2 separate regions of the Homo sapiens genome follow, and region 2 is reported to be linked to region 1. The links are microRNA targets in miRTarBase. Many come from high-throughput screens and were not tested one by one. Region 1 holds a microRNA gene; the other region holds the end of a gene's coding sequence.
Evidence for each region. The annotated mature microRNA hsa-miR-424-3p reads CAAAACGUGAGGCGCUGCUAU and lies in region 1 at 1,883-1,903, opposite strand. An mRNA with a match to its seed (bases 2 to 7 or 8) in the 3' UTR can be bound and repressed. Matches are read on the target gene's strand: a 7mer-m8 pairs with bases 2 to 8, a 7mer-A1 pairs with bases 2 to 7 and ends in A, and an 8mer does both.

Region 1 (3,230 bases):
GTCTTTCAGGAAGGCTGGCTGGCACCGGGCTTCCTTCTGGCTCCAGGGGGAACCGTACAGGACGGGGAGAAAGGGGGAAGCTGGTGAGAGGCAGAAGGGGCGTCACAAGGTGGCTCTCCCACCCCCAAGTGCAAAGGCAGGCGGATGCGGGGACCTGTTCGCCGTTTGAGCCTGGAGATTGCGGGCCTGAGGGGCCCTGCGCTGGCCGGCCGGGGCGAGGCGGGAGCAGAATGGGGATTTCTAGGCCGCCGGGTCGGGCTGGTGGGCGGCGCCCCGGGAGCCTGAGGGTCCCCGCCGGCCCGGGAGGGACCCGAGCCGCCCCCGCGCACTGCCCCGGCGCAAGGGAGTCTGGGAGAGCCAGCGTCTCGGGCCGCTGAACCCGACTCCCAGCTCTAGACTTCGGAACCCCGGCCCCACCCCAAACTGGGAAACTTCTAGGGGCCCACTCCTGGCCCCGGGAAGCCCAGTTCCAGGCAGCCCATTCAGACCAGAGGAGTTTGGGTGTCTTTTTTTTTTCTTTAAGGTGACAAAAAGTGTGGGAAAGATTCCACACCTCCCTCCCCACGCCCGCCAATGGTCCTTTACCTGTCCATGTTTCAGATTAAATAATTAGCTCAAGAGATTTGCACAGAAAGCGAATTAGCCCTTTTCTAGTCAGACTGTTAAGCTCTCAGGCGGGCAACTCGGAACCCCGTTTCCTCACCGAAGGCTCAGGAGGCCAGCCCAGTGAGGGATGGAGGTGGCTTTAGAGGGCGACAGTTGTGCAGCACTCATGAGCAACAGTGCCCAGGACTTTTGAAGTCACGAAGGGCTCCTGAAATCGACAGCTCAGGTCCCGCCCCTGGGGCGACAAAGGAGTCTTGGGGGCGTGCCGCCGGGTTGGAATTGTGGTAGCAGATTTTTGGGGGAGGAGGGCGCAAAGCAGCTAGAAACGCACATCCTCATTCTGGAACTATCCCAAGGCCCCCATGCTTCTCAGCAGGCCTCGGGCTCAGATTGGGCGGGTTGGAGCCTTCCACCCCACCTTGGGTTCACCCGCCCGCAAGGCCTCGCGCCTCACCCGATCCTTCTAGAGTGCTGGAGCTCCACGGAGCCTCCCTAACCCCCCAGCAGCGGGGAAGGGAGGGCGAGGGAGTGGGGAAGAGGCCCGTTATTTTGATCTTTCCTGAATTCTTAAGTCCCTTCCATACCCAGGACATGAGCGCGTTTACCAGGAACCGCAGAGAGGTGTAAAGACTTCTTGCAGCTGCTCACCCTTCCTCTCCCCTTACTCCTTTTCCAGTCCTCCCCACCCCCCAGCATTTCGTGGGTGGGGACTGAAGATAGGTTTTCTTCGTTGTCCTGTGGGTGGTATTCTGATTGGGAAGGGATTTTTTTCAATTGTTTACATTCTACCTGAGCAGGGAAAGGGGGTGCCAAAATGAAGCATCATTCACGTCCAGTCACATATGCAGAGACGGGGCAAACGTTTGATGCAATCTTGGGTCTCGCTGCTCCCGGGGCCGACACCGCAGGCGATGGCCTAAGACTTACCTGCTGGGTAGGCCCGAACGGCAGTCCCAGACTTACCCTGGCAGCGGAAACAATACCCCAGAGCACCGATCGCTCACTGCAGAACTGTTCCCGCTGCTAGGGCACGGCTGAGCGCGGGCACCGCGTCTCTCCTCGACTCGCACCGCCTATGCGCCCCAGCCTAGCCAGGAATACTGCCCTCCCCGGACTACAGCCCTGCTGCGTGGACAAGGGCGAGGACCCGCCGGAAACAGAGACGCGAGCCCCCGCCCACCTACCTGCTCCTGAGCCGGCCTCGCGGGGAGCGGGCACCTGGTGGCAGGAACACGCGTCCGGCAGACCCCACCTTCTACCTTCCCCACGAGGGGGTATAGCAGCGCCTCACGTTTTGAACCATTTAGAACACTTCAAAACATGAATTGCTGCTGTATCCCCTCGGAGTCAATGAAGGGGGATCGATCTGGGGGTACCTGCGGGTGAATAAAGACTGGATGACTGAAGGAAGCCCCGCCCCACCCCCTGGCAAGGAATAGGGCAAAACTTATGACTAGGCCACTTCACTCCAAGTTAAGGTACTTCTTATAACTTCACCATTTGATTTCCAGGAGCTGCAGGTGGAGCCGAAAGTGTGGCTCTCAATTTTTTCCCCTGAGGATGAATCTTGGAACAACGTAGTGGGTGAAAAGCAGAGCGATGGGGGATACGAATTAGTGTGGAAGAGAATCTAATTACTTCTGAAGGTAGACGAATAAGGTTAAGTAGAGGCAATTGGACATCTGGATCATTCTTGCCAGTTTCAAAGTCTTGGTGAAACTTCTTCCTGCTGCATATTACAAGTCTCATTCATTGTCCCCATTAAAAAAAAACAAAAAACGAAACAAAAAAACAACCTTTATTGGAAATGGACTCAGATGACTGAAAGAAAATAACCAAAACCTCACCGGTAGCTTCAGCTGATTCTTACACTATCGTTGCGACATATACATCTATCTTTAAAAGCATTAGATGTCCTAACTCACTGCTAGTGTTTTTATTCTTAAACACCCCAGCTGAGTTATTTTAAAGAGCTCCAAACAATGACAGAGAACTTTCTGTAGATGAAATACCAGTTTACATATTAAACTGGTTACTCAAACTTATTTATAATTTATACCTATCAATGTCATCTATCAAAACATAAATCAAAAAGTTTAAATACTTGATGTCAAGTCGCTCCTTCCTGTTTCAAGCAGCTCCACAGAAACTTTCATGTCCTGAAATGGCCGGCACTGCGCATACTCCTTAATGATTAACTCATTAGATACCACTTTTTCCTTTTTAAAATGGACACATATTAGCAACAAGTCACATGCATGCCCTCTTTTTGTTTGAATACAATATTCAATTAAGCATTAAAAAAAAAACCCACTCTGAAATCCTCAATCACAAACCTAAAAGTTAAAACAACAAAATCAGCACTAACTGTAATGGTTTTGAAAGTTAAATACATTTCAGCACAAGTAATAGACATTTAAATTATCCAACTGTAAGTATCTTGTTACACTTACAAATTAAGTCGGTTTTTCAAAACCAGTACAATGAATGTTAAGTGTCCTATTTATTAGTTAATAAAATGTGCAGAGTATTTAATAAGATTAAGTATCGAATTTATAACATCCAGACTGAGATCCAGTGGTAACAAATACACTATGTCATGGTAAAAAAAAAAAGTCATTAGT
Region 2 (3,000 bases), not on the chromosome of region 1:
ATATTTTGCTACCAATAAAAGTCTGGTTCCTAAATGTAATTCCATACTAAATTCACTGCTTGTACATGAAGAAAAATCTAAATTAATTGACATGTAAAGGAGTGGCTCTCAGCAGAAAGCCATAATAATTGCATGATAGAAGTTTAATATCATTGTTCTTTGCATCTGAAAATGTCATCAATAGCATGCATTGTAAGTGAAGGGAAAAAACCCAGCGTACTGTATGCATCTGCACAGCCCTCTGCAAATGTTTATGGGAACAGTTCAGAGGACTTATTATTGGTGGTTGGTTCCTAAGCTGTAAACATTCAACATTACATAGAGGTAGGTCTTAACATCTTTTCTGTGGCTCACTTTGCATTTTAGACCCTCTCCCACTCAGCTTTGTCCATAGCAGTTTAGACACCCATGATATTCAGAAGACCTTTTGGAAGGTTTGCAATAGCTTGGTTTTACAATGAAATGACAGTCTCCCTTATTTGTGACTTGAAATACTATTTCATGTTTCAATAATTTTAAGCAACTAAGGAGATAAATAAGGCTCCATGAATAGTATCTATTACAAAATTCTTTTAAAATAAGCTTATAGATTGTAGAATTAAAACATGGAGTAGAATTTGTAGAATGTAATAGGAAGGACTAAATACATGAAAACAGATATTTTCACTAGAATTAGACTAGAAGAAACAATTATCACAATTCTAGAAATAAGTATTCATGGATTAACTCAAAGAGAAGCGGATTCAGCTACTCAGCTTTGTAATTTAAAGTGCATTAGTTTTTTGGTCTTGTTGTACCTTAGACTTGCTAAATTAATCATTTTACCTATTCTTACCACAGACAATGACTTACTCTCTACCAAATAAAACGTTGGTTTATAAGGAATTATTTCTTTGATGATTCTGATATTGCTTATATTTTTATTGTCTCTTCCATAGTAATGACAAATTGCTATTAAACAATTTACACAGTTCACATCATTAAACATCTAGTTACAATACCTGGCATTACAATATTTTGATTTTGTGAAATGTTATACTATATGCTTTATATTTTAGAAAAATTAAGATCATAGCCACTAGCCACAGAAACCTTTCATATCTCAAAACTTTAACTGATATAATTTCTCTGCTTATTATTTTCAATAATTTAAAATATTCAAAATGTCATGACTACTTACTAGTGCTCATTTATAACCTAAAATAATCTGTTATTCCTATTGCTTAGAATTCTATTATTATACTTAGCATTTGAGGCTCTCTGTAATCTGGCATTTTCCTTACTCAACAAATGTCCTTTCTACCACTCTGTAGCATGAGTGGATCATTCTATTCAAGATAATATTTTAAATTGTCCCATAAATATATCAGGCTCATTCCCATCACTCTTTTATTCATATTGCTCCCCAAAATGTAACATCCTCTTCTCTCTTTTTACCATCTATCTATATTCTAGTATTATGATCATTCAGAATACCTATATAATTAATTACCTTTAAAGAAAGGAAATTAGAACCTCACTTCATACATTCAAAAACGTTAGATATATTAAAAAGTCTAAAAATTAAAGTATAACACAGCTAGAAGAAAATATATGTAAATATTTGAACACAGAATAAAGTCTAAATATAAAACCAATGGAATAAATTATAAATTATCACTGGATTTCATAAAAACAAAGTTCCATACACTAAAAATAACCATTGAACAAACTGAAATGACAAGAAACTGAACTCCTATATCAGAAACTGTATAAAAGATACCTTCTTAAGTTTCCCTTTCCAAATATTTCAGAGAACACCTGAAGGCTATTTATACCAAGCAAAACAGAAATATTACAGTCAAATATATTTCCAATAAGGATTTTCTGCAGGTTTATTTTAGGGAATCTGCTTATTTTTGCTGCTTAATTCTAAACCCTCCCATTAGGTATTTTAAATGCCTGGGCTTCGTTTTTTTCAACAAATGTTTTTATTGCACTGCAGCCACATGCCAGGAATTGTGCTAGATACAAAAATGCACTGATGTGTAAAACAAATATGATCCCATCACACAACTGAAGCCTAGTGGAAGATAAACTTTAATCAAGTAATCACACAAATTGTGGCTTATAAACAAAAGGTGCAGGGCACTATGAGAGCATATAAAAGCAACTTCACCTATTGGGGATATGGGATATGTATATGTCAAGGAAGACTTCTTATCTACATACAACTGTAAGCTTTTAAAACAGCAGGGCTCTATCATAAATAGATTCTGCACCTTTCTGCATCTAACACAGTAAGTCTTCTATATTTGTTAAATAATTTGTTCCAATTAAAATTTGAGGCTGTCCTTACTAACTAGCCTTCTTTTTCAGTGGTGTGCATGAAGTCAGCTTTAGAATGATCAATACTGTAGACTAGACACTTTAAGAGAGACAATTTAGAAAGACACACTTTTATTCTTATGATTAAACAATTTAAAAAGAAATCTGTTTATATGATTTAATAATCAATATTATCAGATTTAATGGTAAAATACCATTTAAACATCAAAGGAATAACGTTAATTCATATTTCTTTAAAAAATTATTCACATAATTCATGAACTAAAACAGCTTTAAAATTTTTTTCACTAACAGTACACATAGGTCCTTGAAAGTTTTTTAAAAGCATGTATTTTTACATTGTGTATCCTGGAAGTTTATTTATTACTAATTCACAAATATCTTTGCATTGCTTGGAAATATTTAGTGAACCAACATCATCATTGCCTTCTTCAAAGTGATCTGATGTACTGCTATCCAGGACATTAAGTTCGGACACATTTGAAGGCAGGTAAGAACTCACCTGGGATGTTTGTGGTGACTGGCTTTTTTCTAAAGATTTCCAACTACTTCTTGTTTTAACAGAGATGTCTTGAGCTCTCTTTGTAATTTCAGAATTGTGCATACTATTTTGATCTATCTGGTTTTCTTTTTGTTCAGTCCAATGTGTTGAAGATAAATCACTAGCAGAGA

Region 2: miRTarBase lists MAP10 as a target of hsa-miR-424-3p. Seed matches in the 3' UTR shown: 7mer-m8 at 1,533-1,539.

Annotation. Positions count from the first base shown.
Region 1 is chrX:134,544,762-134,547,991 of GRCh38, forward strand. It overlaps MIR424 (microRNA 424), which reads right to left and starts at 1,950; the gene lies at 1,853-1,950. It overlaps MIR503HG (MIR503 host gene), which reads right to left and starts at 1,869. Exons shown (of 3, transcript NR_024607.1): 1 at 1,791-1,869; 2 at 1-36. It overlaps MIR503 (microRNA 503), which reads right to left and starts at 1,637; the gene lies at 1,567-1,637.
Region 2 is chr1:232,807,830-232,810,829 of GRCh38, reverse strand. It overlaps MAP10 (microtubule associated protein 10), which reads right to left. Exons shown (of 1, transcript NM_019090.3): 1 at 901-3,000. The coding sequence ends at 2,663. Among named protein-coding and RNA genes, the nearest start is that of MAP10, 3.9 kb to the right of the region's middle.